4 linked regions of the Homo sapiens genome follow. The protein of the gene in region 3 purifies or fractionates together with the protein of the main gene of each other region. This does not show direct contact. Each region holds a gene or a part of one and is shown on either strand. Other genes may lie near its edges.

The links.
Region 1: the proteins of WDR37 (region 3) and CLUH purify together in Homo sapiens (affinity purification with mass spectrometry; 3 studies listed by BioGRID and IntAct, with this or other methods). This does not show direct contact.
Region 2: the proteins of WDR37 (region 3) and PACS1 purify together in Homo sapiens (affinity purification with mass spectrometry; 4 studies listed by BioGRID and IntAct, with this or other methods). This does not show direct contact.
Region 4: the proteins of WDR37 (region 3) and CCT3 purify together in Homo sapiens (affinity purification with mass spectrometry; 2 studies listed by BioGRID and IntAct, with this or other methods). This does not show direct contact.

What each region holds. Positions count from the first base shown.
Region 1 is NC_000017.11:2,708,764-2,716,310, forward strand, and holds the start of CLUH (clustered mitochondria protein homolog), read right to left. Parts: upstream 3,002-7,547; 5' UTR 2,899-3,001; coding exon 2,799-2,898; intron 2,491-2,798; exon of another isoform or gene 2,290-2,490; intron 1-2,289. UniProt on the Homo sapiens protein: mRNA-binding protein involved in proper cytoplasmic distribution of mitochondria.
Region 2 is NC_000011.10:66,073,257-66,080,284, reverse strand, and holds part of PACS1 (phosphofurin acidic cluster sorting protein 1), read right to left. Parts: intron 1-7,028. UniProt on the Homo sapiens protein: Coat protein that is involved in the localization of trans-Golgi network (TGN) membrane proteins that contain acidic cluster sorting motifs.
Region 3 is NC_000010.11:1,122,378-1,129,405, forward strand, and holds part of WDR37 (WD repeat-containing protein 37), read left to right. Parts: intron 1-1,840; coding exon 1,841-1,975; intron 1,976-2,532; coding exon 2,533-2,647; intron 2,648-6,835; coding exon 6,836-6,967; 3' UTR 6,968-7,028. UniProt on the Homo sapiens protein: Required for normal ER Ca2+ handling in lymphocytes. Together with PACS1, it plays an essential role in stabilizing peripheral lymphocyte populations.
Region 4 is NC_000001.11:156,335,293-156,343,016, forward strand, and holds the start of CCT3 (T-complex protein 1 subunit gamma), read right to left. Parts: upstream 3,001-7,724; 5' UTR 2,893-3,000; coding exon 2,862-2,892; intron 2,498-2,861; exon of another isoform or gene 2,385-2,497; intron 2,258-2,384; exon of another isoform or gene 2,022-2,257; intron 1,949-2,021; exon of another isoform or gene 1,787-1,948; intron 597-1,786; coding exon 535-596; intron 1-534. Other genes in the region: TSACC (TSSK6-activating co-chaperone protein), read left to right, coding at 3,448-3,478, 4,443-4,499. UniProt on the Homo sapiens protein: Component of the chaperonin-containing T-complex (TRiC), a molecular chaperone complex that assists the folding of actin, tubulin and other proteins upon ATP hydrolysis.

The sequences.
Region 1 (7,547 bases), on a different chromosome or scaffold from region 3:
CCCACTCAGCGCAGCCCACCCACCCCCTCCCGAGGGGCCCGGCAGCACCCACAGGTAGGCTGCACCTGCCTCCTCGTCCAGGCCTCAGCCTCTACTCGGGGGGGGGGGAGCAGAACTATCCCAGTCACAGCACTCCCCAAGGCCTCTACACCCTTGGGCCAATACTCCCTCCTCTCATAGTCCAGGAGCACCTCTGAGGATGTGAGCTTTAGGGGAGGGGAAAAGGAGGTCTTCTGCAGAGCGGGAGAGCCGTGCCCCAACAGCACTCTGCATACACGCAAACTCAGATGCTAGTGAAGAGACAAAGCACACCCTTGCCCCGGCCTGGAGGCGCCGGGAGCTCAAAGGCGGCAGAGAGGAGGAACTAGAAAAGAAACTTAGGCCTCCCAGAGGACCTGTGTGCTGCCCAAGCCAGGCACAATCTCACTCAGAAGACTGTGCCAGGGCCAGGCCACGCCCCAGCCAAGGCCTCAGCAAGTGAGGCTCCAGCAGGAAGTAGGGTCCGAAAAGGTGCATCACCCGTCCCGGGAGCCCAGGGCTTCAGGGAAAGGCAATGGGGCGGGCAGGCGGCCTATGGAAGAACCTACAGACCAGGCACCTGTTTGCCTCCTTCCTGTCCCACCCAGGCCAGAGGCAGGCGTTCAGGGCCTGAGGACAGTTCAGAGTTCCTCAGGCTGCTCTCCCCACATCCCATCCAAGATCCTGTTGCGGAGCTCCCATAAGCCCCTAGACTCCTTCCCCAGCTGCCAGCCTCCTCCTCCTCCCCCTCTGGGCCTCAACTCCAGGGAGCCCTCCCCTGGGCAGAAGGAACCTGACGCACCACTGTGGACCTGAAAAACCTGCCTGTTCTCTTAACCCCTAAAAGCCGCTGTATTCCCAGGAAGGTAACCAACCCTTGCCCCCGACCCTCAATGGCCTAGATCAGCTCCTTCCTAAGGGGGCTGAAGAGCCTTCCAGAGCTGGATCTCAGAGGTCAGAAGCCTTGGTTCTGATGCTCAGGTGGGCCCCAGCTGGGGGGTCTTCATTAAGGCTCCTTCCTTCTTTCAATAGATCCGGGCTGGCTGTAACGTAAGTCCTAGCTAGCTGTACTACCTTCCCAGGGACGTAGGAGCCCATGTCCTGCCCACGAGTATGCTCCCAGTTTCCCCAAAACAAATAGCTGTGCCCTTCCCTGACTCAGTTTACCCCCGACAGAGCCCCCCCACCCCCAGCAGAGTTAGGAAGGGGCTTCACTGACTCCCTCACAGAAATCCTCCAACAGACGCTCGTCAGCCCCCTAGTTCTCAGCACGGGATCCAAACCAACACGCCTGTCCCAGCTTCCTCTGGGCCAGGCCACGGCAGCCTTGGCTTGCTGGCCATGAGCTGGAATCCAAACACTTCCCTTAACAGCTAAATCGCTGTGTGACCTTGGGCAAGTCACTTCGACTCTTCGGGTCTCTGCTAGAGGGGAAATCAGCCAACCTCCTCTCATCCAGCCTGCCCCCACTGATTCAGAGCCACATCAGCACAAAGCCTGGTAGGTTGGGGCGATGAGCATCTGCTCTTCTGCCCAAACCTTGGCCTTGTCTAGACAATCAGCAGTACTGCCCCAGCACCTGTCCCTCACCCCAAGGCAACTCCGCTATGATGGGAACAGGGTCAGAGGGCTGAACGCTGTCCCCATCCTGATTCCCAAGTCAGCCCTGGCGCACTCACTGAAGCTAGGAAGGGAGATGATGAGGCGTTAAGACCACAAGTCCCAACTGAGGACAGTCGACGGAGGAGGGAGGGACTGGGGGACAGGAGTAGCTCTGCACCTCCACTGCCACCCAGAGCAAAGAGGGCCTGAGGAAGATGACGACTGAGGGCCTGGGAAGGGGATTCCAGCCCCAAGGCTGGAGTCTGAGACACGGTGGAGGGAACAGAAGGAAGAGAAGGGGCTCAGGAGAAAGGGAAAGCAGGCCCCACCCGAGACAAGCTGCAGCCACTGCCACAGTCACCACCATACAGCCCCCATGGGGGATCGCTGGGAGCTTGACTCCACACTAACGACCTTTGCCTTAAAAACAGCAACTCTGGTCTGACCCACTTTTCGCAATAAGGCAGGTTAATGATCAAGTTCTGGCACAAACACTTCCCCCTGCCAAGGAGTTTGGCTCTGCCCCATGCAAAGGCAGACGCCCCCTACACCAGGTCGGCCGAGCAGGCCAACACACCTGAGAGTCTCCGCCACAGCCTGAAGACCTGCGGTTATAGCCTGGCCTCAGGGCATGAACCAGGGACGCCCCTCACAACGCACACCCCGCACCTCGTGCTCTTCCCACAAACCAAGCCTGGGAAGCCTCGAGCGGAGCTTCACTCCCAGGGCTGCAGCCCTGCGCACAGGGGATGCCTGGGAGGCCGCCGCGGAGCAGGTGCCGAAGGGGGCTGTCCCGCAAACGTCGGAGCGACCCCAGCTCAGAGAGCTCCCATGCTCGGGCGCAGAGGGGGTGGGGCCGCCGATTCTTTCGGTCTGCGGCGGCGGCGCACCCCGAAACCGCGTGTGCGCGCACGTGTCCCCGCGATGAGGCGCGCGTGTGCCCGCCGAGGGTGCCAGCCGAGGCTGCCCTCCACGGGACCGCACGTGCGAAACCCGGGCCGCAGCCGGGGGCGACTGTGAAGGTGACCTTCAGCGCGGGGGCGACCCGGTGAAGGCCCCAGCGAGATACAACCGGGCCCGACGCGGAGGGAAGGCGGCGATCCCCGCGGAGTCCCGAACCCGCCCGCCCTGGTCCGGCGCCCCCCGCCCAGCGGCCCGCTGGCCCTGGCCCCGCTCACCGGCCGCGCCCGGCCGCCCCTTGCCCCCGGCCTGCGAGCCGTGTTCCCGGGCGCTGTCGGCCGGGGCGGCCGCCGGCAACTCGTCCGTCTTGATAACCATGGTGGCGGGAGCGGGCGTCCGCCTCGGCTGTCCGCGCCGCCCGCCGCGCCACTAACCCAAGTGCCCTGCGCGCCGCGGCTGCTGAGGGAAGGACGGAGTCACCGGCCCACGTGGTGCGCGCCGTGGCCTTTGACCCCGCCGCCGTTTCCCTGCCCCACCCTCGCGCCCGGCCCAGCCCACGGCGGCCCGCGAGGGACAAAACGCGCCGCGCCTGGTTCCCCGCCCACGGACGCGGTGACTTTCCAGAACGTCTTAAAGGCAACGCACTCTGACTCAAGGCCCAGGGAGGCTGGGCGCCCTCGCGGGGCGGGGCCTCGGGGAGACTCCCTGCTGCTCGCTGCCCGTCGGGCGGGCACTGTGACCTTGGGTGGAGACTGGTCTGGTTCTGCCATGGCTAATCCTCCCCTCTCCAAGGATCCCCTGTTTTCTCTTGCAGATTTGCTAAATGACCGCGCAGTCTGTCATCTGCGGTGTTCGCGTGACCCTCAGCGCCCTCCCCACCCGGCAGGCCCTTTCCCGCCGAATGGGTGCGGCTGGATTATTGAGGGAGTGGAGGGTCGCTTAGGGCACGGGCACGAGAGGCGAGGGCGAGACGTGGCTAATGGGGATCAAGAGTCAGAATGGACCCGCCAAACTTTGCCCCGAGCCAGAACGGGCTCCCTACCCGCGTCCTCGACCCATGGGTCCTCACCTCCAGGCTGGTGTCCTCATTTTACAGTGGAGGAGGCCGAGACCAAGGTCACACAGAGAGCAAGGGGTAGAGCCGGGTCTGACTCCATCCACAGCCAGGACGCTTTAACTCGTATTTTTCACTTGGCAGGGGCTTGGCGGGGACGGAACGGTGAGGTCAGAGAATGCTGCAGAGGGGACATTGGGACCAGGTCTTGCAGTGAGTTGAAGTGCTCCAGGCAGAGAGCGCCGGTGGGTCTTTCCTGGCCAGGCCGCAGGGGGCCTTTGGGAAGCACCCGAGGCCTATAACCTTCGGAGCGTTTGTCAAGCTCTAATGAGAACTGGAAAGCTTCAGCTTCCCGAGGTGGGCTGGGAGGGCCTTAGGTAGGGCCTCGCACAAATTGCGAAGGAAAGCCGACCTTGTTCTGGAGAGCACGTGGTGAGGAAAGCCAGCGACTTGATGTGAGCATTTAAACGGGAGGAAGGAAGATGAGAACTGGTAAGATTCTTCTCGGCCGGGCGGTGCAGCGGCTCACGCCTGTAATCCTAGCACTTTGGGAGGCCGAAGCCAGGCGGATGACTTGAGTTCAGGATTCGGAAGTTTGAGACCAACCTGGGCAACATTTCAAAACCCCCGTCTCTACAAAAAATATTGTTTAAAAAAAGCCAGGTGTAGTGGCACGCGCCTGTAGTCCCAGCTACTTGGGAGCTGAGCTGGGAGTATCACTCAGGACGGCTCAGATTGAGCCCAGGAGTTCCAAGCTGCAGTGAGCTATGATCGCACCACTGCACTCCTGCCTGGGTGACACAGACACCGTCTCAAAAAAAAAAAAAAAAAAAAAGCCGGGCGCGGTGGCTCACGCCTGTAATTCCAGCACTTTGGGAGGCAGAGGCGGGCGGATCACGAGGTCAGGAATTAGAGACCAGCCTGGCCAAGATGGTGAAACCCCGTCTCTACTAAAAATACAAAAATTAGCTGCGCATGGTGGTGTGCGCCTGTAGTCCCAGCTACTCGGGTGGCTGAGGCAGAAGAATCGCTTGAACCCAGGAGGTGGAGGTTGCGGTGAGCCGAGATCGCGCCATTGCACTCCAGCTTGGGCAACAAGAGAGAAACTCCGTCTCAAAAAAAGAAAAAAAAAGTGTGCATATATATATATAGTGTGTGTATATATATATAGTGTGTATATATAGTGTGTATATATATAGTGTGTGTATATATATAGTGTGTATATATATAAGTGTATATATAAAATATATATATTTATAATCAATATATATAAAAGTGTGTATATATGTGTGTATATATACACATACATACTTATGTGTGCGTGTGTATATACGTATGTGTATACACACACTCGTTCCTCTTTTGTTACACAAATGTGCAGAAAATTGTACCTGCTATTCTTCACTCTGATTTTTTTTTTACACGCTTTCAGTAGGTGTTCTCATTCCATTTACGCTGGATAATGTTGTATTGTTTGGTTGTACCATAATTCTTTTAGCCGGTCACCTGACTGATGGGTACTTAGTTTGTATTCATGAAACTCCAGGGTTTTTGAGAATTGTGCCTAGTGGCCCAGTGCAGCTGAAGTTGGAAGCCCGTGCATGTTGCTAATGCTACTCATAATAGGAAGCTCAGTTTTAACCCTGGGGGTTGGGGAAGAGCAGCAAGCCTGGGGTTAGAGAAACAGACACGTATAAAAAGCATCATCCAGCCGAGTGCGGCGGCTCACGCCTGTAATGCCAACACTTTGAGAGGCCGAGGAGAGCAGATTGTATGAGCTCAGGAGTTGGACACCAGCCTGGGCAATATGGCAAAACCTCATCTCTACAAAAAATACAAAAATTAGCTGGGTGTGGTGGTGTGCGCCTATAGTCCCTGCTACTCAGGAGGCTGAGGTAGGAGGATCACTTGAGCCCAAGAGGTTGAGGCTGCAGGATCTCGCCACTGCACTCCAGCCTGGGCGACAGAGCAAGACCCTGTCTCAAAAAAAAAAAGAAAGCAAAGAAAGAAAAGAAAAGAAAAAAAAATCATCCTCTGATCACATTCTCCATAGTCTGGTGGTCTGACCTCTGACCACACATTAAGCAGACTGATTCTTGCTTTCACACAGCTTCCACCAAAGTCTTTTCATCATAGTCTTTTTTTGGGACAGCATCTCGCTGTGTAGCTCACGTTGGAGAACAGTGGCAAGATCTCAGCTCATTGCAACCCCGCCTCCCGGGTTCAAGCGATTCTCCTGCCTCAGCCTCCCTTGTAGCTGGGACTACAGGCGCCCGCCACCATGCCCGACTAATTTTTGTATTTTTAGTAGAGAGGGGGTTTCACCATGTTGGCCAGGCTGGTCTTGAACTCCTGACCTCAGGTGACCTGCCCACCTTGGCCTCCCATAGTGCTGGGATTACAGGCGTGAGCCACCGCACCCGGCCTCCATCATAGTCTTAACAGCACATACTCCCATTTTCCCCAGCTATTTCCACCATTGCCTATAACAATGTGCTATGGTTAAGGTGATCGCATAGTTTATCATTAAAACCAGAACACTTTTGAGAGTGCAAGTGGAACCTATTAATAATGACACAGGGGCAATAGGCATAAATTGAGACCCTCTTGGCCATACTGGGATGTCTGGGTCTTGGGTGAGGAGTCCAGCTGCTAGACCCGGGGACTTTGTTATTTTTTATTTTTTTTTGATATGGAGTCTTGCTCTGTCGCCCAGGCTGGAGTGCAGTGACGTGATCTCAGCTCATTGCAACCTCTACCTCCCGGATTCAAGTGATTCCCTGCCTCAGCCTCCCAAGTAGTTGGGATTACAGGCATGCGTCACCATGCCCGGCTCATTTTTGTATTTTTAGTAGAGATGGGGTTTCACCATGTTGGTCAGGCTGGCCTCGAACTTCTGACCTCGTGATCCGCCCGCCTTGGCCTCCCAAAGTGCTGGGATTACAGGCATGAGCCACCGCGCCTGGCCGACCTGGGGACTTCTTGAAGGCAAGAACCATAACTTATTTATCTGGGTGTTCCCAGCATCTTTCCAGAGCCCAATGCATGGTAGGTGTTTAATGCACATTTATTTATTTTTAATTTTATTTTTAGAGACAGGGTCTCATTCTGTTGCCCAGGCTGGAGTGCAGTGGCATGATCACGGCTCACGGAAGCCTCCAACTTATGGGCTCAAGTGACCCTCCCGTCTCAGTTCCCTGAGTAGCTGGGATTACAGGTGCACACGACCATACCCCACTTAATGCACATTTGTTGACTGAGTGAATGATTTCAGTGTAGAAGGTGCCAGGCCCTGAGGGCTCCACAGGATGTGGGGGGGCAGCATTGCTGGCAGCCTGGGGTTTCACCTTTGAGCCCCCCATTATTTATTTATTTATTTATTTTTTGAGACGGAGTTTTGCTCTTGTTGCCCAGGTTGGAGTGCAATGGCTCAATCTTGGCTGACCACAACCTCTGCCTCCCAGGTTCAAGCAATTCTCCTGCCTCAGCCTCCCCAGTAGCTGGGATTACAGGCATGCGCCACCAGGCCTGGCAAATTTTGTATTTTTAGTAGAGATGGGTTTTAGTAGGGTTTTAGTAGAGTTTAGTAGGGTTTTAGTAGAGATGGGTTTAGTAGAGGTGGTTTCTCTATGTCGGTCAGGCTGGTCTCGAACACCCGACCTCAGGTGGTCTGCCGCCTTGGCCTCCCAAAGTGCTGGGATTACAGGCGTGAGCCACTGTGCCTGGCTGAGTCCCCCATTATTTATAACAGTTGGCTTTCCTTTCAGACACTCCTTTTGTGTACTGTATGCTTTGACCTTTGTGTCTAGAACTTCAGATCATTTCCATAATGCCTGACTGAGACCCACCAGCCTGAGCCCACGGAGGATGCCAAGCGGAGGCACCTCTCCCTATCCTCCTCAGGGTCAGTGAGCGTCCGTAAGTGCCTACCGGTCAGCATGGGGATCGGTGACCAGTTTGTCCATGGGCCTAG
Region 2 (7,028 bases), on a different chromosome or scaffold from region 3:
GCCTGTCTGCTGCTGCTTCTCCAGAGCCTAGATCAGTGCTTGGCACACAGAAACACTCAGTAAATATTTGGTGAATGGATGAATTGTGCATAACAGATAGTCATTCAATAAACATTATAAAACACTATAGGAAAATCAGTGTCATTGATTTGACAAATGTAGTTATTGAGCATCTATAAAGTAACTAAATAAAGGAACAAGATTATTTCCAGTAATGGCGAGTAGGTGTGAAGTAGCTTTATAAACTCCCAGAAGGGGTTGGGCAGGTGAGGACAGCCTTCCAAGGTAGCAGGTCAGTGAAGAGCTGAATGATACCCAGGAGCTAGTCTCAGCGATCCAAGGATCCAGGGAAAGGGTATCACAGGTAGAGGGAACAGCAAGTGCAAAAGCCCTAAGGCGAGGGTGACCCACCGCAGGAACAAGGGGAGAACGCAAAGGTGAGGTCAAAGACATGGGAAGGGGCTGCATCGTTTAGCATCTCCTGAACCATGAAAAGGGGATCTTTTTTAAGTATGACGGAAAGTTACTGGATGGTGTCTCTTATCTTCACCCACTAGAATGCAGACTTCATGAGATCAAGGATTTTGCTTGCGGCACATATCAGCTGGTCTATAAGCTTTTGCTGAATGAATGAACTGGAAGATTATAGAGGGGGTGTGACAAGTTCTGATTTTCATTTTAAAATATCACTCTGAACTGCCACTAGTGGTTACTTTCTGGGAAGGACTAAGGTGGCAGAGGTTGGGAGGGATTACAATGCAATGTGTTTGAGAGGTACCATAAAACAGAAAAACAGAAGGGAAAAGCTGCTCCCTAAACCCTGAAGCCATTTGGTGTTTGTAAACAAGAGGCAGGAAAAGGTTAGTGAGGAGGGATCAGTAAATGATGACTGATGCCCCAAGCCTTAGTGTGTTCTAAACTTTTTTTTTTTTTACCCAGACCTTTTCCCAGCAATAAACTATTAAAAAAAAAAAAAAAAAACCTGCTACAAAGAATGTCTCACCTACCAAGAGGAACAAAAGAAAACTCACAGACAGATACAGAAGTGCACATACTCACACACAAACACACACAATGTTTCAGAAAAACAACTGAAAAGAGGCTGGGCGGTGGCTCACGCCAGTAATCTGCTGACGCGGGCTTGAGGTCAGGAGTTCAAGACTAGCCTGGCCATCATGGTGAAAGCCTGTCTCTACTAAAAATACAAAAATTAGTCGGGCATGGTGGTATGCACCTGTAATCCCAGCTACTTGGGAGGCTGAGGCTGGAGAATCACTTGAACCCGGGAGACAGAGGTTGCAGTGAGCCAAGATAGCGCCACTGCACTCCAGCCTGGGCAAGAGAGCAAGACTCTGTCTCAAAAAGAAAAAGAAAAGAAAACAGCTGAAAAGAAAAAACGCCTTCCTATATCTCAGCACAATAACCAGCCTAGCCTGGGTGCGGTGGCTTACGCCTATAATCCCAACACTATGGTAGGCTGAGGCGGGAGGATTGCTTGAGCCCAGGAGTTTGAGATCAGCCTGGGCAGCATAGTGGGACCTTGTCTCTGCAAAAAATTAAAAAGTTAGCAGGGCATGTTGGCATGTGCCTGTGGTTCCAGCTACTTGGGAGTCTAAGGAGGGAGGATCACTTGAACCCAGGAGGTTGAGGCTGAACAGAGTGAGCTGTGTTCATGCCACTGCATTCCAGTTTGGGCAACAGAGTGAGAGCCTATCTCAAAATCAAAAACAAAATAACCAGTCTAAAATCCTTCAGAGACAATTAACATGCCAGTCATACCCAAAATGTTAGCTGGGGGAAATCCTACTCATAATAAAGTTTTGAGAGGTAGTTTGGAAAACTAGTTTAGAAAGAAATCACATAACCACTAATGTGTCCAAAAGATCTGTCATTTGGAGGAGTTACACAGACTACAAAGAAGGGAACAGGTGTTACAGTAGGGAGCAAATTTAAGGCGTCACTCCTTTCACATCTACCTATATTTATACGAGGTCACTAAAAAACATACACAGCAAATTACCCACATCACAATTTCTAAGACGCATACAGTTCTAAAAAGTGTTTTTGCCAAAATGACCTGTGGATACCACTGTATTTACAAAACTAAAAGTACTGAAAGTGTTGAAAGGATGAAGGGAGCCCAGGTTGATCTGAGAGTGGACACAGATCATTACTCACAAGGAGAAAAGAGGAAGAACGATATTTGAGATTCAGAAAAATTGTTGAAGCTAGCACTAAACTCAAATATTCCAACCTTTGTTGTACCTTAAAAACCTTACAGTTGGCCAGGCATGGTTGCTTACAACTGTAATCCCAGCACCTTGGGAGGCTGAGGTAGGTGAATCACCTGAGGTCAGGAGTTCGAGACCAGCCTGGCCAACATGGTGAAACCCCGTCTCTACTAAAAATACAAAATTATCCATGCATGGTGGTGCATGCCTGGAATCCCAGCTACTCGGGAGGCTGAGGCAGGAGAATTGCTTGAACCTCGGAGGCGGAGGTTTCCGTGAGCCGAGACTGCGCCTTTACACTCCAGCCTAGGTGACAAGAGCAAAACTCCGTCTCAAAAAAAAAAAAAAAACAAACTTACAATTTAAAAGGATCTGCACAAAATTAAATAAACAAACCTGCCATCAACACTATTTTATCACCTATGCCTCACCATCTACCTCAACACAAGGAAAGTAATGACTTAGAACATTCTCTATTCACCCATTTTTGTTTGAGACAGGGTCTTACTCTGTTGCCCAGGCTAGAGTACAGGGGCGAGATCATGGCTCACTGAAGCCTCGACCTCCAGAGCTCAAGTGCTCTTCCCACCTCAGCCTCCTGAGTAGCTGGGACCACAGGCGCACGCCACCACACCTGGCTAATTTTGTTTATTTTTTGTGGAGAGGGGTTGCCATGTTGTCTAGGCTGGTCTCAAACTCCTGGGCTCAAGTGACCCTTCCGCCTCAGCCTCCCAAAGTGCTGGGATGATAGGCATGAGCCACCACGCCCAGCCTTGGAATGTTTTAATAAACTATTTTCTAGAAGTTTTCTAGATGTGTTTCATTGGTTAGCTGTCTGTTCTACTGCGATTCCCAAGGTCAAGAGGCAGGGTGCAGGTCTGCCTAAGTGGCGATCCCTGAGTTGTGACCAAAGCCATTCTCTGGTTTTTAATGAGATAACGGGGAACACAGGTCCAGCTGACTGCCCTGTGAACATCTATAAGGGGTAACACTCTAGAGCTGGTGCATATCTTGGTCTCTAAAACCTTTGGAAGCTGGTTATTCCTCTATCTAGGTCCACAAAGAAGACCCTGTCAGTGCTTGCCAACCTAAGAGACTGCCCACCTTGCTTGATGGCCCTCTGAAAGAAGTTCTAAGTCCAACTCCAAACTCTGACTTTCCTCAAGAGCCCTCAATATCACCTCAAGCCCTGTGCTGGAAGAAGACCAACGTTGGCAAATCATTCCCACAGCTACGCTAGATTCCCACGGAATTTCCGGAATGTGACAACATGGGTGCAAGCCAGGCCAACACCAAATTTCAGAGGACCCACCATGTAGATGCATGCTGGCATCTACATCAACACCTTCAAGTCCAGGCCAGTCCAGGCACAGTGGCTCACATCTGTAATCCCAGCACTTTGGGAGGCCGAGGCCGCCGGATCACTTGAGGTCAGAAGTTCGAAACCAGCCTGGCCAACATGGGGAAACCCCGTCTCTACTAAAAATACAAAAATGTGCTGGGTGTGGTGGCGTGCGCCTATAGTCCCAGCTACCTGGGAGGCTGAGGCTCAAGAATCCTGGGAGGCGGAGGTTGCAGTGAGCCGAGATCGCACCATTGCACTCCAGCCTGGGCAACAGAACAAGACCCTGTCTCAAAAAAAAAAAAAGTCCAAGTCCAAACTGGACAAGCCTCCTGAACTGAGGTAGTGAAAAGACGCAGCTCTAACATTTTCTGAGGCGTACCCGCCCTCATTCCAGCACCTACAACAACAGTGACAACTTACTGGCTTAGCTAAGAAATTGGAAAACTAGTTTAGAAAGAAATCACATAACCGCTAAGGTGTCCAAAAGATCTGTAAATCAATACATGTAAAATGGACTCTGTGAAAGTCATTATCTTTCTAACTCATGTAATCTGAGCTTCCACAGGGACGATGGATACTATTACCCTGATAGAGATGATATTCTATTACAACACTCACAATGTGAAATTCAAATCTCCTAAGGTACAAACATGCTTTTAAGACTTTTAATGTGGCTGAGCGCGGTGGCTCACGTCTGTAATCCCAGCACTTTGGAAGGCCAAGGCAGGTGGATCACGAGGTCAGGAGATCGAGAGCATCCTGGCTAACATGGTAAAACCCCGTCTCTACTAAAAATATAAAAAATTAGCTGGGCGTGGTGGCGGGCACCTGCAGTCCTAGCTACTTGGCAGGCTGAGGCAGGAGAATGGCGTGAACCCAGGAGGCAGAGCTTACAGTGAGCCAGATCGCGCCACTGCATTCCAGCCGGGGGACAGAGCGAGACTCCGTCTCAAAAAAAAAAAAAAAAAAAGGACTTTTAATGCTAGGGTAGTAATAGAAATTTCATCAGGTCTTTCTTATTTGATCAATTACATTTACTTTATACCTATAATTTAAGAAATACTTTCTCCCATGCTTCTATAGATCCAATTTTATATATATTTCATCCACATCTAAGAATGGATGGTAAGTAAAAGTATTCCCATAAAGATGAAAAAACTAAGGCATGGGCCAGGCACAGTGGTTCACACCTGTATCCCAGTACTTCGAGAGACTGAGGCGGGAGGATCACTTGAGCCCAGGAGTTCGAGACCAGCCTGGGCAACACAGCAAGACCCCATCTCTACAAAAAAATCTTAAAATCAGCCTGGCATGGTGGCAAGTGCCTATGGTCCCAGCTACTCAGGAGGCTGAGGTGAGAGGAATGCTTGAGCCCAGGAGGTCTAGGTTGCAATGAGCCGTGATTGTGCCACTGCACTCCAACCTGAGTAAAAAAGCAAGACTGTGTCTCAAAAAAACAAAACAAAGGCTGGGCATGGTGGCTCACGCCTGTAATCCCAGCACTTTGGAAGGCCAAGGCGGGCAGATCACAAGCTCAGGAGATCGAGACCATCCTGGCTAACACAGTGAAACGCCATCTGTACAAAAAAATACAAAAAATTAGCCAGGTGTGGTGGCAGGCGCCTGTAGTCCCAGCTACTCGGGAGGCTGAGGCAGGAGAATGGAGCGAACCTGGGAGGCGGAGCTTGCAGTGAGCCGAGATTGCACCACTGCACTCCAGCCTGGGCGACAGAGCGAGACTCCATCTCAAAAAAAAAAAAAAAAAAACACCAAAAAAAAATTAATAAAATTAAACTAATGCATGGAAGAGTTTGTCCTAGTATATAGTAAGAAGATAGAGTAGTATATCTTGGCTCGTATAGTGCTTCTGTGGTTAAAGGGGCAAATGCCCCCAAGCGTTTTCATGAAAGTAACACTTCTGCTGCAGACCAGTCATGCCAACTCAGCTATGGCCACCTTCTGTGATTCCAACGCTTTTGTCCATTAAGGCTTGACCTCAGCACCCACTTAAAAAAAATGTGACCTAAGGAGAAAAGTGACTGATAACTGCCAACTCCTACCCTAAGTTCACATACACATAAGGGTATGCAAATGGGCTTTGGATATGGTTTGCGAATGATACAGCAGAGCACATTTCATCTCTTAATAATCACTTTTATGCCACTGAGGAAATTTTGAATGCTTGTAAAATTTAGTAATTTTTCTGCCTCTCCTACTTACAGCAACACAAAAAGAAAAGAACATCAGGGAAACCTCACCATACAAAGGCAGAAGGGAAGGGATCAACAATGAGGCTCTAACACCCTTCCTTTAACATCAAGCAGCATGCCACCTGGTCCCCATAACCCTGCACCACGGTCCATGCCATACTGGACCATAGTAGAGGAAGTACTACTTAGCATGAAGGGAAAACAATGCTAACTTCTAAAGCTTGAATTTCATAAAAGATAAAGGAACTATAGCAAAACTACCTTTTTGTAACAGAATCTTAAAAGCCAACTGTATTTCACAGTGATTACCTCTGGGAAGTGAGAAGAGGGATGGACTGGGGGCTTTTTCCTTTGTGCTTTCCATCTTTCCATACTGCTCAAATTTCTAATCATGGACATATATTAATCATTTTGTCTTTAAAAAAAATGCTGGTAAAAGGCTGGGCACAGTGGCTCACACCTGTAATCTCAGCACTTTGGGAGTCCGAGGTAGGAGGACAGTTTGAAGCAAGGAGTTCAAGACCAGCCTGGGCAACATAGTGAGACCCTGTTTTTAAAAAAAAAAAAAAAAAAAAAAAAAAAGCCAGGTGTGATGTCACATGCCTATAGTCCCAGCTACTTGGGAGGCTGAGGCTGGAGGATTGCTGAGCCCAGGAGTTGGAGGCTGCAGTGAGCTATGACTGTGCCACTACACTGTAGCCTGGATGACAGAGCAAGACTCCATCTAAAGAAAAAAAACAAAAAATGCTGGTGAAAAATGTGATCAACAGAACAATTTCATTCTTTTAAAACCAGCTGTGAGTAAGCTATTCACCTATATAAAGTTTTTCAAAAGTACTATGTATTCTGGGGGAATTTAACAGATGTTAAATAAGAGCAGACACCTACCTGAAGAACAACTACACTGCTCTTTATTTAAATATCTAATACAGGAAACGGTATTTTTTTCAAAAGAAAATTATATTTTGACAGGCATCAAGAAAAGCAGCAGGACCTTCCTAACACTGTACTGTTCGAGCCCCTCTTCTCTGCCCTAAGAGACCAAATCCCATGACATTCTTATGCACACCTAACCTTAGATCCACAATCATGTTTACATTTCTAAGGGGCATGTATCTCATATATTTGTGTCCCGTTTGAGTTACATGAGACAAGAATGTTAATCCCTCCACAGAGTGCTGCATGTTGCCTATATATTCTAAACAACATGAACAAGGACACCCAGGAGACCTCAAATTAACC
Region 3 (7,028 bases):
TGTGCCCTGGGAGACAGTGTAGGGGTCAAGCCTGTGTCTCTCTGAGAAGGCACTGCCCCTGCGTCTCAGGATCTGCCCACTCTGCCCTGAAGTCAGACCATGCCTTCCTGGGTGGGCCACTCATGCCCAGCTGCATGGCGAGCATGGGGACCCACCCCAGCCCTGAGCCAGGCAGGACGCGCAGCCCCCTGGCCGTTGCTGAAGACAGCAGTGGATCATGCCTGGATTGTGTGCCCTTAGCTCACGGGGAAAGTAAGGTTTTTATCACATTCTTTTTACTGAACTTTGCCAGTGAGCAAAGAGGTGATTGAATTTTCTTCTTCAAATGTCATTTTATTATTTGAGTTCTAAATACCTTCTGGCAAGTGCCAGAGACTTTCCTTTGATCACTGGTTAAGGTAATCACCCCAGCCACTGCCAGCACAGCCTCAGCTGGTGAGGACATGATTTCCTCTGCAGATTTTGCCTGGGTTTCTTCAGTGATTCTCAGTGCAATTCAAGTGATAACATCCTTTGTTTACATGTTTAATCCGATTTTACCACGGGTAAGACTATTTAATATACTTAGCACCATGTCAAACACTTTTTTTTACATTTCAGAAGAAAAGTTTATGAAAGAGTTTAACATAAACTGATGAAACCTTTCTTCCCCCTCTCTTCTTGTTTTTATGGTACTTTTCATCTTTAGGGCGTGGGTCTCCCATCTTAGCCATTTCAGGGCCTCTTCGGTTCCTCGAGCCTCTCCCTGAGGGCCACATATTTCAACACATTTGAATTAAAAAGAAAACTATTAATTATTATTTTGGATTTATAGAAGCAGGTTCCAAGAGTGGTTGTGATGTTGAATTTTTCTCCTCAAACTTTTTAAGATAAAGATTGTGGTTAAATATACATAATATGAAACTTACTATTTTAACTGTTTTTATGTGTGTACTTCAGTGGCATTAAATCAATTCACATTGTTGTGCAACCACCAGCACTATTTCCTATGCTTTTTCATTATCTCAAATGGAAACTCTGCACTTGTGAAACTATTCATGCCCATCCCCCAGACCCCGAGAACCTCTGTTCTACTTCCTGTTTCTCTGAATTTGCCTAGTCCAGGGATCTTAGATGAGGGGGATTCTTGAAAGTTCATTCATGTCATAGCACGTGTTAGAGTTTCTTTTTTTACGACTGAATAATATTCCATTGTGTGTACACGCCGCATTAAATCCATCTGCTGATGGACATGTGGGTTGTTTGCACCTCTTTGGCTGTTGTCAGTAATGCTACTGTGAATTCTGGTGTGTGGGGCTTCTTGGCTGTTTGTATATCTTCTTTGGGAAAATGTTGATCCAAGTCCTTTGTCCGTGTTTGAATTGTTGTCAGAGTGTTTTTCTCTTAACTCCTGTGTTATGATTACATTGATTGAGAGTTGTTGTTGGAATGGATTTCTTTTAAATTCTCTGCTATAGACCAAGATATGTTATGATTACATTGATTGACAGTTGTTGTTGGAATGGATTTTTTAAATTCTCTGCCATAGACCCAGATGTGTAGACATTTGGGCATGTTCTGTCCAACCCTACTTTCTGTAACCTCTCTTCGTTCCGTTGCCTGTAGATGTGGAATAGAGTAGAATGGACTGTGTGTTTCTGATCCACTGGGAAGAAATCAGTTGTCCTTTTCTTGCACTGGTGGAGAGGCTTTGGGAGGCGGGAGCAGTTTGCAGAGGAGAGAGCTGTGAGTTTGCGCTTCTCCGACCTCCTTCCCACCCACTTGGTCAGGGTTGTGTGTGGGGTGTGGTGTCACGTCCTGCACCTGCTGTTGCATCTGACTCTGTGCCCTTTGTTCATAGCACTGTGACTTCTGCCGTGTTCACCGTGGGAGACAACGTGGTTTCAGGCAGCGATGACCGCACGGTGAAAGTCTGGGACTTGAAAAATATGAGATCCCCCATTGCAACTATTCGCACGGACTCTGCCATTAACAGGTAAAGTCAAACTGTTGGTTAAGTAAGTGGCTTAGTTTGATGTGAAAGGATTGATTGTGATTTCATGTTTTATTCATGGAGGTTTAATTGATAGAACCCCGGGAACAATGGTTTAGGCTCCTTTGTCCTCTAATGCAGTTTCAGTATTCCATGAAAACTTAAACTAACTTAGCCTAAAACCAGGTTGGATCAGTGAGATTTGTGAGAATGAGAATGACCCGTTTGTGGCAGACATGCAGGGCTTCTCTTGACTTCTTGTGAGGATTGGTCTTGTGTCTGGGTGGGTCTGGTTCTACCATTGAGCAGTGTGTGTGTGTGTGTGTGTGTGTGTGTGTGTGTGTATTGTGTGTATGTGCATGGGGTCTGTGTGATCTTGTAGCTACGTGTGAGTAACTTGGTCTCTTTTGAATACCGTAAGCAGGTGGTACACGCAGTGTGTTCATGTAGTCGGCCTTGAAATGTGAATAATATGGAACCTCCTGCTTCATTATCTGTCAACTCAAAAACTTACAGTGTCACTGTTTCATGCACAACCCACTTTTACCTCTTCTTTGCAGGATCAATGTATGTGTCGGCCAAAAAATCATAGCCCTCCCCCATGACAACCGACAAGTGAGACTGTTTGATATGTCAGGAGTGCGCCTGGCGCGGCTTCCCCGGAGCAGCCGACAGGTAACAGCACGGTCGGTGAACATATGCAGGGCACAGTGGAGGAGGACGGGTAGAGATATTTTACATTCTCATTTTCTTACTAAGTCTTTGCATGCTAAGTTTTCCTTGGAAATGCTTGAGCTGTATTTAGAGTTCATAAAATTTAAAATTGAAGAAGTAGAGTTGTACACTCAAGTTATTCCACACCTACTTCAGTGTTTTTTTTTTTTGAGACAGAGTTTTGCTCTTGTTGCCCAGGCTGGAGTGCAGTGGCATGATCTCACGGCAACCTCTGTCTCCCAGGTTCAAGCAATTCTTCTGCCTCAGCCTCAGCCTCAATCTCCCGAGTAGCTGAGATTACAGGCATGCGCCACCACGCCTGGCTAATTTTGTTAGTCAGGCTGGTTAGTTAGTCAGGCTGGTCTTGAACTCCTGACCTCAGGTGATCTGCCCTCCTCCGCCTCCCAAAGTGCTAGGATTACAGGCGTGAGCCACCGTGCCCAGCCCAGTGTTCTTAATACCATGATCGGCTTTTCAGTTTACAAATAAAGAAAACATGCAGCTCCTCTGTTTCACAGGCATGCGGAACGAGCTCTTTGGTGCACGTGTTAGTGGTGGTGGCTCTGTGGGGAAGCCGTCTTAGATGTCTGCAGTTGTGTCTGTGCAGATTGGAAGTGTTGAGTGGGCATTGTGGCCAGGCAGAAGCTGGGTTGGTTGTAGGCTGGGGGTCTTTAAGGTGGGACCTCTTCCACCTCCAGCCAGAAGAACACGTTTCTATGGCAGGCTGTTGCGACAGGAAGAAATATATTTAAATGTTAGTTTCTTGTTAGTGAAGGGTTGCTCCTTGCTAACTTCAGAAGACGGCGGAGGGAGTTTCTCGCTATGTGCTGTTCAGCCCACCCGTCCTGGTTGCCTGGAAGGCGCAAAGAGAATCGAGACTCCATGGCACCCGCACAGATGCAGAGGCCCAGGGGGCCTGGGGGCCCGTGTTCAGATTCCCTGGCGGCTCTGCTGTGCTCTGCAGCCGGGCCTCACTATAATGTGGGTGGCGTTTGCTGTTGGCTCTCCCCTGGGAGGTCACAGGGTCAGCTGCGATGCACAGAAACTCCCCGGGGTCAGTGGCTGGTCGCAGTGGCTGACGCCTGTAATCGTAGCACTTTGGGAGGCTGAGGCGGGCAGATCACGAGGTCAGGAGATCGAGACCATCCTGACTAACACGGTGAAACCCTGTCTCTAATAAAAATACAAAAAAATCAGCCAGGCGTGGTGGCGGGCGTCTGTAGTCCCAGCTACTCGGGAGGCTGAGGCAGGAGAATGGCGTGAACCCAGGAGGCGGAGCTTGCAGTGAGCTGAGATCGCGCCACTGCACTCCAGCCTGGGCGACAGAGCGAGACTGTGTCTCAGAAAAAAAAAAAAGAAACTCCCCGTGGTCGAGGCAGCGTCTGCCCAGCCTTGTGCGTAATGGAGGCCCCCCCAGAGGATCCCTCTTTCCTGTCTTCTTTTGATTTTGTTGGAGTACTGTCTGGATACCTGTGTGAGTAAATGGATTTGTTCCCCGAGGCCTCCTGTGGCTGCACAGGGCCACACGCCTGCCGGCAGCTTGGGTGGCCCCCTCAGTGCCTCTGTGGCTCCTTCTGTGGACACCAGCTCATGGCTCGTGGGCCGCAGCTGCTCTGCACGGGGTGTGAGCCTCAGAACCTGCAGGCAGGCCGGGTGGTCAGGGAGGCACGTGCGAAAGTGGGGGTTCTCTCAGCGCAGCAACACCTTTTCTTCCGGTAGCACAGACTTTCTGGAAATGAGCTTCCCTGAGACCGGGTGTCTCTTCAGTCCCCTTCCTGGCATGAGAGTGCACTGTTTGAAGTTAATTATTGAGTTTTTACTCCTCGATACACATCCAAATAGTGGAGTAGAAAAATTTCATGAAATTAGAGTGACTAAAATATGCTTCACAACCCTTAACACAGCCATAAATTGCTTGTCCTGGGGAAGCTTTTCATGTTTTGTTAACAGCTGAGCATCACTCATGTGTCCTCACAGCTGCATCTTAGACACAGTAGAATGTTCTCTTTTCAATGTGCCCATGCGGATTTTAAAATTTCTGTGCAGCATGTAAAGTTTGCATTTTGAAACACAAATTCATGAAAACTATTTGTTTATGACTGTGAACTATGACTTTATTACTTTGAGAGTATTTTCCCTCAGAAAAACGGAATTCTGAATGGTTCTTCTTGGCCTTAATTCTGTGTAGACAGTTTTATTTTCAGTTATCTGTGAACATTCAACTTTGTTGATGTTGTAGGATTCTGTTGTGCCTGGGTTTATTCCCTCCTAAAGTGGTATGTGAAATAGATTTATTTTTAAGATTAATGAATGTGATTTAACTTTATTTAGAACTTGTAACACCTCTTCAGATAAATAAATGTGGTTTTCAGTGTCACAGAACCCTGCTGGAAATCACTGACTTATATTGTCCTTACTTCTTCAGCTGACTGACTTGAAAAAGAGAAAACAAAACACTTATTTGAGCCTTTAAGTAGTGGAGTGAAAGGGACTGATTGAAAATATTTCCCTGTAGTGCTGGAGTAGGTGTCACTTCCCAGCATGAGTTTTGGGAAAGCGAGCTTGGTGGAGAGTCAGGAGGTCCGGGGTCAGGGTTCCTGTGAAGAGCAGGCTCATTGGGCGTGAGGGTCCCTGCGCAAGGGTCTCTGTGACGTGGAGGCTCACGGAGTGTGAGGGTCCCTGTGATGTGGAGGCCCGTGGGGCCCCGTGCTGAGCGTCCTGGAGCACATCACGTGCACTGGGGCTCATGACGGCATGGGGCGTCTTCCGGGTGCATCTGCTTCCTGGGTGGCAATGCTGTGGGCGCATGAGAGATGGAAATCCCATGGGAGCTCTGCCGGAGGTGAAAGCCTGGCTGGCTTTCTTCTGGAAGCTCTTTGGCACTTCTGCAGCGAATGCCTTGAGTTTCACTGTGCAGAGCTCTTGCCCACAGCCTTGGTTTTGCCTCCAGTTAGTGGATGCATTGCTGCTTCCTTTTTTGTGCCTTTTGTAACCCTTTGTTATGTGGTCTTTCTTATAATTATTTTATTTTTCTGGCCTTTTGTGGATGTCTTTCCAGATGTATAAATAGCTATTGTGGTTCTCTCTCCAGATGTATAAATAGCATATTTATGGGGGAATATTTTCAGGAGAACTTTATGCCATTCTTTGAGTGTTTCTTAATCTGTCAACTTTACTTAATACTGACTCACTCTTGTACCTGATGCTGTAACAGCAACGTATCAGAGCTGTTGTGTAGTTTAGAAAATGCAGATGGGTGCTAAGGCACTGCTTACAGATATTCTAAGTGTTGGCTAAGAGCCTGCATCTGCTATGTACATACACACCGATATGCTATTGCTCTGTCACATATTTTGCAGTAACTTTTCCAGCATGCTGATATTTAACTGGAATTGCTGAAGATGGCAGGAATCTACCTAAAAGGCCATTTATTTATCCTTGTTTTATATGACACCAAATGTATTTTTGTAGTTCCATTATTACTGAAGCCAGTTATTTGTTAAAATGCAATTTGAAGTCTTTGAGTGAATATCATTTAATTTACCTCTAAATATCTCCTAGCTTCATTTATTCAAAAATTTCACATTGATCATTTATTTTTTTGTCTGACTGTAATCTTACTCATTTTCTTAAAGAAGGACTCATACAGTGCTTTTGGGCGGGTTCCACCAACCCTCGTGCTCACTGGTGTCTCGGCATCACTCATTCTGGCCTGGCTGCACGTCCTGGCGGCTCTGCCGTGCTCGGCGGTCCATGCTCGGCGGTCCATGCTCGGTGGTCCTGCTCAGTGGTCCATGCTCGGCGGTCCATGCTCGGTGGTCCTGCTCAGTGGTCCATGCTTGGTGGTCCATGCTCTATGGTCCATGGGGTGCTCGGTGGTCCGTGCTCGGCGGTGGTTGGTGCTCGGCAGTCCATGATCTGTGGCCCATGCACGGTGGTCCATGATCTGTGGCCCATGCACGGTGGTCCATGATCTGTGGTCCATGCTTGGTGGTCCGTGCTCGGTGGTCCATGGGACTGATCCTGCACACCATGTTGTTTTCCTATAACTTACGTACTTTGAGTGATGTGGTTATTCATTTCGCTGAGGTCTTATAATCTTACTTTCGGGAATAATGCACTGATTTTGGTTTGTTTGATCATCACTAGGGCCACAGGAGAATGGTATGCTGCTCGGCATGGAGTGAAGACCACCCCGTGTGCAATCTGTTCACCTGTGGGTTTGACCGGCAAGCCATTGGTTGGAACATCAACATCCCTGCATTGCTACAAGAAAAATAAGGACACCGGCAGCCCTTAGTTTCACTGTTTGCCAGCACAGACCTTTGATGGGTGCAGGCTT
Region 4 (7,724 bases), on a different chromosome or scaffold from region 3:
GAATGGATACAGAAATGACTTTTCACAAGAATAAGGGGGAAATGGCTCCCAGAGCTTGTTTCCCAGCAGTCCTAATTACTAGAAGTCCATGTCTTAGTATTTCTTTCCATGACGGTGGCCTCTACACCATCCTAAATCAGATATAAGGCTATTTCACTATTTCATTCAAAAGACATTTACCGAATATCTATCCAAGATCTACGGTGGGCACTAGGAATACAAAAGGGAATAAAGTACTTATGTTCAAGTAACTCAGTTTAGTATGGGAGACAAACACAAATAGAATACTATAAAACAATACACAGCAACAGAATAATGCACAAGTTAATACGAGAAGATTATCAGTCCTAACTCAGAAGGGGAGGGCTTCCTTTCCCCTAACATCATCAGGAAAATGTTCTGAAAGAGGTCAACTTTTCCTCTGCCTATTTGCCTACTCTATAAAGTCTAGATGCACAGGACACATGGCTATGACCAAATACCAGGAAAGATAGCTGGAGGCAAACTACCATAAACACTTAAAAGATTTGTGACCTTGGCAGCATTGATGTTTCCAGATTGAACTTTTCTTCCGGATTCACGCTTTGTGTTCTGGCCTAAAATAGACAAAAACACAAGTCAACAGCCCAGGACTGCCCCATCGTACACAAGCTATTTATTTCCCCGTCTTTGAAAAATAAGAATGCAGGTTTCATGGTATATCCACAGAGCAAAGCTTATCAAACTCTACACTTTAAATAAGTGCAGTTTATTATATGTCAACCATATCTCAAAAAACTGTAAACATATGTCCTTATGGCTGTTAACTTCCTTCTGTATTTCAATCCTTGGTATATTAAGAAATAACTTTGGAATCTTGGTTAATACTTTTCTTCTAACCAAATATTCCTATATTTACAGCAGGGATTCATAACCTGAGATCTATGAATGGGCCTTAGTGGGATAGCGAACTCCCTGAGATTATGTGAGAAAATGAGAGATACTGCAATTTTTTTTTTTTCCGGAAAGAGGATCCACAACTATTATCAGATTCTCAAAGGGCTGGTGACCCTAAGAAATGACCATTCATTGCTTTGCGTAAGCAGGGAAAGAGTTTGGGGATTCACATTTTTCTGCTTGGATAGGGGGATCATACTCTAACAGGTCCAGCATAATTAGTGATAGCGCCCCCACAGCATACTGTTTAGAACACACTCAACAGTTTGCAAGATAAATTATATAGTCACCTCATAATTGGATGTAATAAGAAGGCCTCAGTAACCCATTTACCATCACTAAGAACTGACTACATACTTTAACTGGGAGGCTAATCGGTCACAGCCAACTAATGCCAGAGATTAATGCAGACCTGAAAGGAGCTTTGCAAATACACCACTCACCCCCAGGCCATGTCAGTGGAGACAAGCCAGTGGTTATAACCAAACCAACATAATGTTTATTTCCTTCCTCTCTCTAAATTACCTTCCTTTACAATTTAAGTCTGTAAATCTTTCAATCCAGTCCCATCAAACCAAAACACCCACAATGCTTAGGATTTACATCTATCTCAGGGAGCTGTAACCAAAAACCTGCATGGACCTACAATCCATCAGAAAGAAGGCGGCTTTTTTTTTTCAAAATAGCGTTTTTATTTTATTTTTTTCCTTAAAAGTTATTTCCCAGGTACAGAGATAATGAATAATAACTCTGAAAGGCAGTCAGTATACAGAAGACGGTAAGGGAGGGGAGATGGCTAGCCAGGCTCTGCAGATGAGGTACAGAAGTTACACACAGAATGGAAACATACCAAAGGAAGACAATGGAGGTGGTGCTCATCAGAAAAAAATAAGGGACCGGGCGCGGTGGCTCACGCCTGTAATCTCAGCACTTTGGGAGGCCGAGGTGGGCGGATCACCTGAGCTCATCAGCAGTTGGAGACCAGCCTGGTCAACATGGTGAAACTCCGTCTCTACCAAAAATACAAAAATTAGCCGTGCGTGGTGGCGCGCGCCTGTACTCCCAGCTACTCGGGAGGCTAAGGCAGGAGGATCGCTTGAACCTGGGAGGCAGAGGTTGCAGTGAACAGAGATCGCGCCACTGCAACCCAGCCTGGGTGACAGAGCGAGACTTTGTCTCAAAATATAAAAAGAAAAAAAATAAGGGATCTTCCAAAAGGAAAAGGTGACCAGTCGAGAAATCTGGGAAAACCCAACTGGTTAGTGGGAAAGAGTACAACGCCGGGGACACGGAGGGAACGATTACATCTAAGATCAGTGAGGCAAGTACGGTTACTTCGGGAAAAGGGATTGCTGTTCAAGAGACTGTTACTGAAAATAAATGTAACGTAAAGTGACCAAGGATATTACCTATTTACCAGACCCTCTTTAAGCAGTCTACCGACTTACCTCATTTAATTCTCACAATTCTACTAGGAAATACTGTTAACTCCGTAATACAGATTGAAACATTTAAATTACCGCTACTAAGGGATGGGCCAAGAATATAAAGCTAGACCTAACTGAAAAAAAAACAAAAAAAAACGTTATTCGTGCAGCTACATAGCGACAATCAGGCTAGAAAGGGCGCAGGGGCGGGGGAAGCGTGGGGGCTGAGGGACAGAACGCGGAGTGGGAAAGAGCTTCCCAAGACGAGCACACGTCAAGGAAAGAGGCTCGGCGAGAATAAGGCCAGTTTGAGTTTGTGCAGAGAAGCGAACAGGTTAAGAGAAGAGAGGAAAGCGGGACACTGGGCTTCCAAAATGAAGACGATGATTGGAAGGCTCAGTGGCCCGGTCAGTGGGGGACGGAGCTGGGGCAACACTGAAAAGTATGGACAGAAGAGGGCGAAAAGGGGGTCCATTTCCTGGCATCCCCAGAACTCACTGAGCACGAGCACTGGACGATGGCCCATCATGGCGACGCGATGCAGAGCCGGGTACCCAGAGCTGGGGGAACCGGCAGAACCTTCTGGAGAGAGAGAACCAGACAGAAGCCCAGAAAACGCTGCCTCCTCAGGGCTTACACCTCAACCCGCTACTCTCAAGGTAGTCGCCAATCACCGCACCCATCTCATTGATCGGCACAAAAACAGACCAATTGACAGCCTTAGTCCCGCCCCCTACGCAAGAACGGCCAGACAAGTTAGACAGAGAGCGCACGACGAAGGCACTGGGAGGGCACAGGCGCTTGCGCAGTAGGGTGGCCGCTCCCGGCCGCGTGCAGCGCGAACGTCGGCGCAGGCGCCAAGGCTCTGGCAGTTGGCCAGCACACCACTACGCATGTGTGTCAACTCTAGGGTTGGGTGCTGGGGTTGCGGCTTTCGGTTAACACCGCAGGTGAGGTCGTTAAACTGTGTATTGCGACTCGGCTCCTATCGGACCGTGAAGGCTAAGAAAGGCTTCACAGTTCCCACTCTTTTGGTCTAGCCTTAGCAACAGGTGGACTAGAGAGGCGGGACTCCAGCCAGCACATGGGGGAAAGACCTGCCGGCTTGGCGCAGGGTGAAGTGGGAGTTGTAGTCTTACCGGGCCGGACTGCGCAGCCTTTTTCCGGGCACACTGGGAGTTGTGGTTTATCGCCTCTGGACTAATGGCTGTATGTGGACTTTTCCCTTCTTAGGAAATGCTTTCAGTGAGGCTGTGAGCAGTACCGGAGGGTGATGGCTTGCGTTTCCTTAAGTTATCCTATCTAAAATATTTTCCCAAGTATTTCCGCCGGGCGCTGTGGCTCACGCCTGTAATCCCAGCACTTTGGGAGGCCGAGGCGGGTGGATCACCTGAGGTCAGGAGTTCGAGACCAGCGTGGCCAACATGGCGAAACCCCGTCTCTACTAAAAATACAAAAATTAGCCGGGCGTGGTGGCGCGCGCCTGTAATCCCAGCTACTCAGGAGGCTGAGGCAGGAGAATCGCTTGAACCCTGGAGACGGAGGTTGCAGTGAGCCGACATCGTGTCACTGCACTCCAGCCTGGCGACAGAGCGAGACTCCATCTCAAAAAAAAAAAAAAAAGTATTCCCTGTGGTGCTTTGAGATTTTTTTCCCCCACATCCATCCCTCTCCCGCTGTCCTGAGTCTTAGTTAGAGATGATGGGGAGCCAGAGTTTTAAAATTACCATTCGGGATAGGAGAAGGACTTATCATACCGTGGAAATTAAACATGGTGAGAACACGGAAAGTAACTGCCTGTTCGTCAGAGACGTTTAAGGTTTGGGTTTGGTTAAATTACTATTTTGTCCAGAAAAAAAAGGAAGCACTAAAGGAAAACTGTTTTCCAAACTAGTGAAGGGGCCGTGAGAGCACCAACAGTTCAAGAACAGTCACCTGTTTGGCCATGAAATAGAGTTTCCTACTTTTTCCTCTGCAGATTGGAACAGGCTGAGATCTGCTGGAGACAACTTAGGAAATTATCATAGTGAAAATACTAACATGGATTGTTGATCATCTGATGCTATGATTCTTTCCCAGGCACCACACCTGTTGGTGTTCAGATGGAGCGGCACACTAGTCATCCTAACAGAAAAGGTGTGTGTTGGAGGCCCTGCTTCCCCTCCCTTAAAAAGCAAGACCTCCTTTGCATTCCCCACTAAATGGGAGCATTGCTGTATTCCCAGCACCTAGAACTGGATCTGTTAAATAGTAGATGCTCAGTAATTATTTGTTAAATGAATTTATTATTCTTCCTTTGTATCTCCTCTTAATACTTAGAACAAGACTATGTACAGGATCTTAGAAGACATGGTGTTAACTAGAGTGAAGAGATACTGAGTTGTAGTGGGACAGCCCCATTGGTGGGCCAGGGAAATGCCTGAGGCCTTCTGACTCCAGAGCCTATCCACTTAACTTTAGCTGGATCAGATTATCTGAAAGACCTACCATTCCATAGCCTGGACATAATTTTTTTTTTGTTTAGACGGAGTCTCGCTCTGTCACCCAGGCTGGGGTGCAGAGGCACCATCTCTGCTCACTGCAAGCTCCGTCTCCTGGGTTCACGCCATTCTCCTGCCTCGGCCTCCTGAGTAGCTGGGACTGCAGGCACCTGCCACCATGCCCGGCTAATTTTTTTGTGTTTTTAGTAGAGACGGGGTTTCACCGTGTCAGCCAGGATGGTCTTAATCTCCTGACCTTGTGATCCAACTGCCTTGGACTCCCAAAGTGCTGGGATTACAGGTGTGAGCTACCGCCCCCGGCCTTTTTTTTTTTTTTTTTTTTGAGATAGAGTTTTGCTCTTGTTGCCTAGGCTGGAGTGCAGTGGCACTACCTTGGCTCACCGCAACCTCTGCCTCCCGGGTTCAAGCAATTCTCCTGCCTCAGCTTCCCGAGTAGCTGGGATTGCAGGCGTGCACCCCCACGCCCAGCTAATTTTGTATTTTTAGTAGAGATGGGGTTTCGCCATCTTGGTCAGGCTGGTTTCGAACTCCTGACCTCAGGTGATCCGCCTGCCTCGGCCTCCCGAAGTGCTGGGATTACAGGTGTGAGCCACCGCGCCCAGCCCCAGCTTGGGCATAAATTAACTGGCTCTTTTCACAGAGTATATAGTGCAGTGGTAAAGAGCATGACTTTGGAGTCTACAGGACCAAATTTAATTCCAGCTGCTATTTGCCAGACCCTCTTAAGCAGTTTACCTACTTAGGATCACTGCCACCTCTGTCTCCTTGATTCAAGTGATTCTTGTGCCTCAGCCACCCAAGTAGCTGGGATTACAGGTGTATGCCACCACGCCTGGCTAATTTTTGTATTTTTAGTACAGACTGGGTTACGCCAGGTCTTGAACTCCTGGCCTCAAGTGATCCGCCCACTCTGGCCTCCCAAAGTCCTGGGATTACAGGCGTGAGCCATCGCGCCTGGCCAGTTTACCACTTATTTAATGCTCACGATTCTACTAGAAAATACTATTAACCCCACAACAGATCGAAACATTTAAATTAACTGCTACTAAGGGATGGGCTAAGGGTATAAAGCTAGGCCTAACTAAAAAAACATTATTCATGCAGCCACACATATCAACTGTGGAATCTTGAGCAAATTTCATGACTTAAGTTTCCTCAAGTGAAATGTAGGTAAAGCTACCTACTTTATCTACATTCCTCAGGTCACGTTCCCCAGTGCCACAAGACTCTCATAGCACTTACTGAAATGTAATAGTTTGTGTGCTTGATCACCTAATGACTGTCTACACTGCAAGACTATCAGTTCCAGGAGAGTAGTGACCACATCTGTTTAGCAGACTGTGGTATCCACAATGACCCTACTTTAAGGGTCATTGTGAGAAACATATAAGAGAATGTATGTAAAGCACCTTTTATTATCATATCCTCTGTTCTGCCTCCTTTTGCCTCTCTCCACCCTCATCCTCTGTTATACATTGTCAGAAATACAGCTCCTTTAGTATAGAGTGTGTGTAAAGCAGTCTCTTTCTTTAATTAAAAAACAATTTTTAATTTCTCATGCCACCTTGTGTAAAAATGTGTAAAGCATTCTTCAAACCTTATAACCCAGTATAAAATGCATTCTTGGCCGGGCGCAGTGGCTCACGCTTGTAATCCCAGCACTTTGGAAGGCTGAGGCAGGCAGATCACGAGGTCAGGAGATCGAGACCATCCTGACTAACACGGTGAAACCCGTCTCTACTAAAAATACAAAAAATTAGCCGGGCATTGTAGTGGGCACCTGTAGTCCCAGCTACTTGGGAGGCTGAGGCAGGAGAATGGCATGAACCTGGGAGGCGGAGCTTGCAGTGAGCCGAGATGGCACCACTGCACTCCAGCCTGGGCGACAGAGCAAGACTCCGTCTCCAAAAAAAAAAAAAAAAGAAAGAAAAAAAAATGCATTCTCCTATGTCCAGGAAGGACTCAAATTATTTAAAAGTGCATTTGCATGGAAATTAACACATTTTGCATGGAAATTAACACATTATTGAGAAGAATCTTGAGACCTGAGTTTCAACTTCTGTCTCCTTACCACATTCTGCACAAGCCATCAAGTGACTGATGACTCTGGAGCAGGAGGGAAAAGAAGATGGATGACCTACCAGTAGAGCCTGGAAAATCCACAAACCCAGTAACCCAGTGCAAAAGAAAAAAACCAAAACCAAAAAAACATATTTCCCTCACCAAGAGTGACTGACAGAACAGATTTCAGTTTTCATAGGCTCAGTGACCTTCCAGACAGAAAGCATCTCACCCTGGCACCCACATATAAGCACTTCTTCCTCTTACCAGGCCATTCCTTCTGTTGCCCTCTGAGTAAAGAACAAGAATAAGACATTTTCCTTCATACAACCTACTTTTCACACTTCTGCCCCCAGGCTTGTTTTTTATGAAGAGGCCCTTCTTAATCCTTCAGATCCCAGCTGAGATATTATTTCCTCAGGACATGTTTTCCAGCTCTACAGACTAGGTCAGTTGCTTTCATAGCACTTACTGAAGTGTAATAGCATGTGTGCTTGATCACCTAATGCCTGTCTGCACAGCAAGACTGTCAGTTCCAGGAGAGTAGTGACCACTTCTGTTTAGCAAACTGTGGTATCCACAGCGATGACACATAGGCACTTAGCTATCTCTTATGTGTATGATGAAAATGAATTGTTTTACCATCCTTTCTTGATTTCATTATAACAGTGAATTATTGTCTCCCTACTGTCTTGCCTTTTTAATTCTTACCTAGTTCCAGCTGTCTGACTTTCCATCCATTGCCCTTGTCTACTTTGCCACTTCCTTTTCATCTTCTAGACTCCTGAGGAGGAGTTCC